Linked DNA regions of Homo sapiens. Each later gene encodes a partner of the first gene's protein in a complex. Each region holds a gene or a part of one and is shown in the gene's direction. Other genes may lie near its edges.

Region 1 (4,156 bases):
CCGTTTTCCACTGGCCGCTTGCCTCTCTTATCCCCATGCAACCTTGCCTATTGGCCCCTTTCCCTAGGAGAGCCCCTGGGGCTGTCTGATGGAACTGATTGTAAAACTATTTTGTGCAGTAAAAAAGTCGTTTCTTCAAAATCTGAGACCACCCAGAACATGCCCAATCTTTGGCAAATATCGACTGGTTTCCTCAGTATTTGACTAGCTGTACACCGAGTAACTGTCCCGGGTTTCTGGGTCTTTATCTGAGAAGAAATGAGGGGGAAATGTTTCAGAAGATGAAAAAAGGAAGAAAACCTCTCATCCAAAATCTGTTCAAAATTCATTTTGTGCGTTTCGAAGGGGGAGGACAGGAGAATTTAGTGCAAAGACGGCCTCCACCAAACGAAACCGTCCAACATTTGCAAAAGCTTTTAAAATAAACTGCTCAGGGATCAGGGGTTTGCTGGAAACTCCCGGTCGCTTGAAGCCCTGTCCCTCCACTCCGGGCACCCTGGCCTCCCCAGGGTGGGCACCCCTCCTGCACGGAGAGCGGCGGCTGGGATCTCGGAGCAGGGTCGGCTATGGCCCTGGAGGCAGCGGCTCACAGAGAAAAAGCTCTGGCTTTTCTCCGCCCGCTGCGTTCCTCTTCTTACAGCCTCGGGTGTCACATATTAGGTGCTCAATAAATGTGGACATAGGAAACGAAAAGTCCGAATCTGTCCTTACGCCCCCAAGGCGAATTCTGGGGCGCGCGGGTTTATTCCGACCCACTACCACATCGCGTTTCCTGAGGTAACCCGGCCTCGGCTCTGCGGCCCCAGCGGCTGGAGAGCCACGGAGAAGGCGGGCTACGGGCGACAAGATGGAGAGCCGGCCCGAGAGGGACAGAGGCCGCGCTGGCAGCGAGCTGGGGGGCCCACCTGACCGTCCTGCGGGCAGCCCGGCCCCGCGCTCCCATTGACAAGGAGGTCCGCGCCGCCGGCGCGTGGGGCGGGGGCGGAGGCGGGGTGGGGCGCCCCGGCGCGCGCCCGGCCCCACTCCCCGCCCCCGCCAGTCCCGCAAGCACCCACCCCGGGGGAGCCGCGGGCCGGGAGGGCGCTGGGGGGAGGGGCAGGCCGCTCCGCGAGCGCGTGTGCGCGCCGCCGCCGGCTGACGCGAACTCCGGCGCGCGCCTCCCCCGCCCCGCGCCCTCCCCGTCCCGGGGGCCCGGCGCGCGGCCCTGCTGACGTCAGCTGGCGGCCCGCGGAGCCGGGTGCGCAGAGCCGCTGGCGCACTCGCGCGCTGCGCTGGCCTCCTCCCCGCCCCGGGCCCAGGCGCGCGCGCGCTTGTTCGCTCTCCCATTTTTTTTTTCCCCTCCCTCCCTGCCTCTCTCTCTCTCCCTCTCCCTCGAGCTCCCGGCTGGCTGCGGCTCCCTGGCGCTCTCCCTCTCTCTCCGGTAGGCTCACCGAGCGATGCGAGCTCTGGGAGACAGCGACGCCGCCTCCCGCTAGAGACCTGCCCCTCGGCCCGGCCCCCTGCCCAACCCTGCCCAGCGCGCGGGGGTCGGCGAAGGCGCCGCGGACGCACCGACGGCTGAAGAGCGGCGATGCACATGCACTAGCAGCACCCCCTAACTCACTCCCTCCACATCCCGCGCCGCCGCCGCCGCCTCCTCCACCTCCTCCTCCGCCGCCGCCGCCTCCTCCTCCTCCGGCAGCCGCGGCAGCAGGACCCACCCTGCCCCCCACCCCACCCTCTGTCGGCTCCGGCTGCGGCTCCAGCCTCGACTATTATTTTATTTATTTTGGGTCGTGCACAAGCCTCAGTGCCTGCAGTCCGCGCCTCCTCGGCCCGCGGGCGCCTCCTCCCTTGGCTCCGGAGCCCCAGACCCCGGCCACCCTCGATTCGACAACCCCAGACCCCTGCCAGCTGCCGCGAGTCTCCGCTGCTGGAATCTTGTTAGCGGCTGTCTTTTTGGAGGGTTCTGGTTTCCCGACATTTTTGTTTCCAGCCCAGGAGAGGATATCGTGATTTTCCCCCCTTGAGCCCAGGCTCTGCTCTCTGGGGGGGTGGGGGGCGCTCCAAGCCGGGGAGCCGTGCCAGCCGAGTCGTGCGGGCTGTGGCAGGGAAGGGGCCACCATGGGATGTACTCTGAGCGCAGAGGAGAGAGCCGCCCTCGAGCGGAGCAAGGCGATTGAGAAAAACCTCAAAGAGGATGGCATCAGCGCCGCCAAAGACGTGAAATTACTCCTGCTCGGTAAGGACCGCCGCTGCTACCCCCATCCCCCGACCCCGGCCACTCCGCACCCCCTGCCACCAGCTCCCCCACCCCACTCGCGCCCGGGAGACCTGGTCCCCAAGTTGGCACCACCATGTGCCCAGGATCGCCCACCCCCTCGCATGCCTTAGTCCCCCCCTCCCCCTGTTCCCTTAAGCTGACACTCACCAGTTTTTCCCCACTGTCTGTGTCCCAACAGGGGCTGGAGAATCAGGAAAAAGCACCATTGTGAAGCAGATGAAGTAAGTCCCTGTGGCATTGGGATTCGTACTTTTATTAAGAATAATTTTTAAATCGTTTTTATTACATTGCTTACTCCACATTGCTCTCCAGGCCTGTTTTTTAATTCGTGCACACACACACACACACACACACACCCCTATATTTGACTCCCCTCCCCCACTCCCTACGTTGGTTCTGGGTCCTCCACCCTAACTCCTGGGTGGGTGTTTTTTGGGAGGGGGAAGGGGAGCGCCTGTAGTTGTATGAATGACAGTGTCCGCCATATTGATCAGAACATCACACTATTGGCATGATTATGATCATTACTCTTGCTTGTGGAATATTTTCTGTGTCTCACTGCCTCCATTTCTGTCTGTGTCTCTGTTTCATTCTGTCTCTATTTCTTTCTCCTCTTCCCTCCATACCTCCCTATCCCCCAAGGTCCGTAATCCCACTTCCCCCTGCTCTTTTCCTGGGGCAGTGATTTTGAACTTGGCTAACATGGAGGGGACCCAGCCCTAGACTGGGGTGGAGGATCAAGTGTCTGCTGTTCATGCGTTTGGTGCTGAATTGGAGGCTGTGGTTTCTACATCCCCTCGCACCCCCTCCCCCGCAAAAAAAGAGGGCCAGGGTTAGGGGAGGGGTCGTGTGCTAGGGGAAGGAGTGGGTTTCCAAACGTAGGTGACGGGCACAGTTTTATCCAAGGTAGAGGTGGAAGGGGGAGGGAAGCTGCCTGTGAGGCTGAATGTCCGCCCCTTGCTGCCCCCAGCTCCTCTCCTCCCCCACCCTCCCAGCATTGCTCTCCTGACACCCGCAGTTTTCGTTCGCTCCGTGGCCTTTATCAGTGTATTTATTTACACTCTGCATAGGCCGTGTTCCATGTAATCTACCCACAATGCGGATTTCAGGCCCCACTTGCCGCCGCCCCCTTCTGCCTTAGCTATCAGTTTCCCCTCCTAATTAACTGGGGGTGGATTTGAGTGATGGTTGAAAATTAAAACAAAATGGGATATTCCTTCCCTTCCACACTTTCTCAATAAGGAGCCTCGCCCCTCCTTTCCACTTGCAGGCTCGCTTCTTGCCCTATCCACTCGGCAGTTCCTGGTGATCCCACAGGCAGGTTTGCTTGGGGAGGGGGTGGCCGGCAGCGAAGGGGTGTGCGCCCTCCGGGCCTCCTGTTTCGGTTGGCCTGTCAGTTCGAGACGGAGGAGTTCGTTTAGACCGTTTAGCGAAGATTCCACGTCGCTTTGCTGTGACACCTTCGTGCACACACAGCTCCTAATTAGGGGTTGCTGTGCAGTAAACAAAAATGATTATTTTTCAACTTGACACAATAGCCGAAATAATTGCATCGCGTAGGGAAACAATGGAAAATAAAAACCCCTTTCGTGGGAAGGTGGGAGTGGGAGACGAAGCATGCTTGCGGTTTCAGAACCAAGATGCAAAAAATCTTGGATGTGTAACAGGCATGACAAGCGGGTTCTAGGCGGCGCCATGATGGTAGGGAGTAGCGACTCGGAGACAATTTTCCCATCTGCTTGACATGTTCTTATTTTTATTCGAGAGCTCCCTGGGGCTTTCTTCGCAGAGCCCCCCTTGGCTCGCCGCACCCTTCTGAGCCAGGGGTAATTTAGCTTGGGGCTTCTCTTGAGCTTGTGCAACCCAAATTGATGGGGAGGCGGGGCCTGGGGA
Region 2 (3,612 bases), on another chromosome or scaffold:
GGGAGCGGCCACCTGAGTCAGGGACCCTGCCCCACCCAGGCTCCCGCATCGGGGCCATGCAGCCCAGGGAGCCGCTGCTGAAGTCACACCTTCCCCTTCTCATCTCCTTGGCAGCTCACGTCCCCAGGGCTTTATGAGGGCCTCTGCAGGACTGAGGGCAGGTTGTTTGGTTCTAGCCTAGAAAGGCTAAGAGACAGGGTGCAAAGAGCATGGCTTTGGGTTCCTCTTGAGCCCATCCCCCTGTGGTCTCTCCCTCCTTTCCTGGAGCCACCAGGCATGGGGCACAAGGAGAGCTGCCACGAAGGGTAAAGCGGCCGAGCAGAGAGCCTGGCATGGGGGTGCTCTGCCCACCTCTCATTAGCAATAGCTGTGAACATTGCTCCCACCGTCACCAAGGTAAACGCCATCAGGCTGGTGGGGGAGGGTGGCAGGGGCTCTCAGGTCCTCCTCCTCGAGCTGTCCTACCTGAGACCCCTCAGTGGGATCCCTTGGCCCTCCTGCCCCCTGCCCCCACCAGCTGGTTGCTCTCTGCCCTGAGGAGGGCCCTGCCCTCTCTCCCTCTTCTTCCCAAGAGGCCCTGATGTCGATCTGGGATGCTTTGTTCTGTGGCGGGGCGGGGGATGTCTCCCAGCAGTGGGCCAACTTGTGGCTTCACCCCTGCACCTCCAGCTCCCAGGGGTGCGAGCACCTGTGCAGGAGTGGGGCTGGACCTCCCACCCCAACCTCTGCAGATGGCTCGGGCCTTTGCAGGATCAGGATGCATCATGTCAGAAACAGCTGTGTGTGCACGTGGTCTGGGGCTGATGCTGAGTCTGGTCCCAAGGGTGCAGGGGCCAAGGACAGGACCCCCAGGGAGCTCACAGCTGGTAGGGGGTGGTAAACAGGCAGCCTAGCAGAGAGTGAGGGTTCAGGTTGGTCCCAGGGAGCTTCTGAGGCTCTCACTGAGTGTGGCAGGGCACCAGTCCGGGACCCCAGTGGGGAGGGTTAGAGGAAGGGAGGGGAAAGAGGGAGGGAGGGAGGACAGGAGGGGAAAGGAGGAGCATTGCTGCTGAGGGAAGGGCCCACATAGGGGCCCACAGGCTACGGGGGCGCACCCAGCCCAATATTCCTTCCGCCCCGCCCCTGACCAGCCTGCCCTTCTGCAGGTCTCATACCGGGCCCAGCAGGGTGACACGCGGCGGGCAGTGCGGAAGATGCTGCTGGTGTGGGTGCTGGCCTTCCTGCTGTACGGACCAGCCATCCTGAGCTGGGAGTACCTGTCCGGGGGCAGCTCCATCCCCGAGGGCCACTGCTATGCCGAGTTCTTCTACAACTGGTACTTCCTCATCACGGCTTCCACCCTGGAGTTCTTTACGCCCTTCCTCAGCGTCACCTTCTTTAACCTCAGCATCTACCTGAACATCCAGAGGCGCACCCGCCTCCGGCTGGATGGGGCTCGAGAGGCAGCCGGCCCCGAGCCCCCTCCCGAGGCCCAGCCCTCACCACCCCCACCGCCTGGCTGCTGGGGCTGCTGGCAGAAGGGGCACGGGGAGGCCATGCCGCTGCACAGGTATGGGGTGGGTGAGGCGGCCGTAGGCGCTGAGGCCGGGGAGGCGACCCTCGGGGGTGGCGGTGGGGGCGGCTCCGTGGCTTCACCCACCTCCAGCTCCGGCAGCTCCTCGAGGGGCACTGAGAGGCCGCGCTCACTCAAGAGGGGCTCCAAGCCGTCGGCGTCCTCGGCCTCGCTGGAGAAGCGCATGAAGATGGTGTCCCAGAGCTTCACCCAGCGCTTTCGGCTGTCTCGGGACAGGAAAGTGGCCAAGTCGCTGGCCGTCATCGTGAGCATCTTTGGGCTCTGCTGGGCCCCATACACGCTGCTGATGATCATCCGGGCCGCCTGCCATGGCCACTGCGTCCCTGACTACTGGTACGAAACCTCCTTCTGGCTCCTGTGGGCCAACTCGGCTGTCAACCCTGTCCTCTACCCTCTGTGCCACCACAGCTTCCGCCGGGCCTTCACCAAGCTGCTCTGCCCCCAGAAGCTCAAAATCCAGCCCCACAGCTCCCTGGAGCACTGCTGGAAGTGAGTGGCCCACCAGAGCCTCCCTCAGCCACGCCTCTCTCAGCCCAGGTCTCCTGGGCATCTGGCCCTGCTGCCCCCTACCCGGCTCGTTCCCCCAGGGGTGAGCCCCGCCGTGTCTGTGGCCCTCTCTTAATGCCACGGCAGCCACCCTGCCATGGAGGCGCCTTCCTGGGTTGGCCAGAGGGCCCCTCACTGGCTGGACTGGAGGCTGGGTGGCCGGCCCTGCCCCCCACATTCTGGCTCCACCGGGAGGGACAGTCTGGAGGTCCCAGACATGCTGCCCACCCCCTGCTGGTGCCCACCCTTCGCAGTTACTGGTTGGTGTTCTTCCCAAAGCAAGCACCTGGGTGTGCTCCAGGCTTCCTGCCCTAGCAGTTTGCCTCTGCACGTGCACACACCTGCACACCCCTGCACACACCTGCACACCGTCCCTCTCCCCGGACAAGCCCAGGACACTGCCTTTGCTGCCTTCTGTCTCTTGCATAAGCCTCAGGCCTGGCCCTTTCACCCCTCTTCCCACCAACTCTCTCTGCCCCCAAAAGTGTCAAGGGGCCCTAGGAACCTCGAAGCTGTTCTCTGCTTTTCCATTCTGGGTGTTTTCAGAAAGATGAAGAAGAAAACATGTCTGTGAACTTGATGTTCCTGGGATGTTTAATCAAGAGAGACAAAATTGCTGAGGAGCTCAGGGCTGGATTGGCAGGTGTGGGCTCCCACGCCCTCCTCCCTCCGCTAAGGCTTCCGGCTGAGCTGTGCCAGCTGCTTCTGCCCACCCCGCCTCTGGGCTCACACCAGCCCTGGTGGCCAAGCCTGCCCCGGCCACTCTGTTTGCTCACCCAGGACCTCTGGGGGTTGTTGGGAGGAGGGGGCCCGGCTGGGCCCGAGGGTCCCAAGGCGTGCAGGGGCGGTCCAGAGGAGGTGCCCGGGCAGGGGCCGCTTCGCCATGTGCTGTGCACCCGTGCCACGCGCTCTGCATGCTCCTCTGCCTGTGCCCGCTGCGCTGCCCTGCAAACCGTGAGGTCACAATAAAGTGTATTTTTTTATTGGTGCTGATTCCTGAGGACTTTGTGGGGTGCTCAGAGCCTTCGTGCTTTGAGGAGAGACTCCAGGGAGTCCAGAAACCACTGAGAAGCAGGCGTGAGGATGAGGGCTCTGTGTTTTCTTCTAAGTCGGGGGACTGCAGTGGGGATGAAAGACCAGCCTGCCACACCAGGGTTTAATCCCAAGAAGGGTTTCATGTGCCCTACCGCCAGACCCCTGCACTTCTCAAGACCTGGCTGGCGGGTGAGGAGATGCAGCCCACGCCCTGCACAGGAGGGGCCCGCTCTGGCCCTGAGAACACAGACATGCAGCCTTCCTGCCCCCAGGACAGGTGCCTCATCTTTCTTGGTCAGGAGCAGGGTTGCACCCCAGCAAAACTTGGGACCCAGGGAGGATCATGGCCATGCCCAGCGTGTGCAGGGTCTGGGTGGCAAAGGGACTGCAGTGACCAGAGGGGAGGGATTGGGCTAGCTGGCTGGAGCTAGGCTGGAGGGGCTGCTAGAAGGGATGAG

The links.
Region 2: the proteins of GNAO1 (region 1) and HRH3 are in contact, whole or in part, in a cryo-EM structure (PDB 8YN7), measured with the Homo sapiens proteins. Residues at the interface, in NP_066268.1 of Homo sapiens: Ile28 (codon at 2,185), Ala31 (codon at 2,194), Lys32 (codon at 2,197), Asp33 (codon at 2,200), Val34 (codon at 2,203), Lys193, Asn194, Leu195, Asn312, Pro315, Asn316, Lys317, Glu318, Ile319, Tyr320, Phe336, Thr340, Asp341, Ile343, Ile344, Ala345, Asn347, Leu348, Arg349, Gly350, Cys351, Gly352, Leu353, Tyr354; in NP_009163.2 of Homo sapiens: Asn69, Asp131, Arg132, Ser135, Val136, Ala139, Val140 (codon at 1,146), Tyr142 (codon at 1,152), Arg143 (codon at 1,155), Ala144 (codon at 1,158), Gly147 (codon at 1,167), Ile221 (codon at 1,389), Ile225 (codon at 1,401), Arg228 (codon at 1,410), Arg232 (codon at 1,422), Thr345 (codon at 1,761), Phe348 (codon at 1,770), Arg349 (codon at 1,773), Arg352 (codon at 1,782), Val356 (codon at 1,794), Leu360 (codon at 1,806), Cys415 (codon at 1,971), His416 (codon at 1,974), His417 (codon at 1,977).

What each region holds. Positions count from the first base shown.
Region 1 is NC_000016.10:56,190,133-56,194,288, forward strand, and holds the start of GNAO1 (guanine nucleotide-binding protein G(o) subunit alpha), read left to right. Parts: upstream 1-1,356; 5' UTR 1,357-2,103; coding exon 2,104-2,221; intron 2,222-2,422; exon of another isoform or gene 2,423-2,441; coding exon 2,442-2,484; exon of another isoform or gene 2,485-4,156. UniProt on the Homo sapiens protein: Guanine nucleotide-binding proteins (G proteins) function as transducers downstream of G protein-coupled receptors (GPCRs) in numerous signaling cascades.
Region 2 is NC_000020.11:62,214,460-62,218,071, reverse strand, and holds the end of HRH3 (histamine H3 receptor), read left to right. Parts: intron 1-1,145; coding exon 1,146-2,066; 3' UTR 2,067-2,665; coding exon of another isoform or gene 2,666-2,693; 3' UTR 2,694-3,112; downstream 3,113-3,612. UniProt on the Homo sapiens protein: The H3 subclass of histamine receptors could mediate the histamine signals in CNS and peripheral nervous system. Signals through the inhibition of adenylate cyclase and displays high constitutive activity (spontaneous activity in the absence of agonist).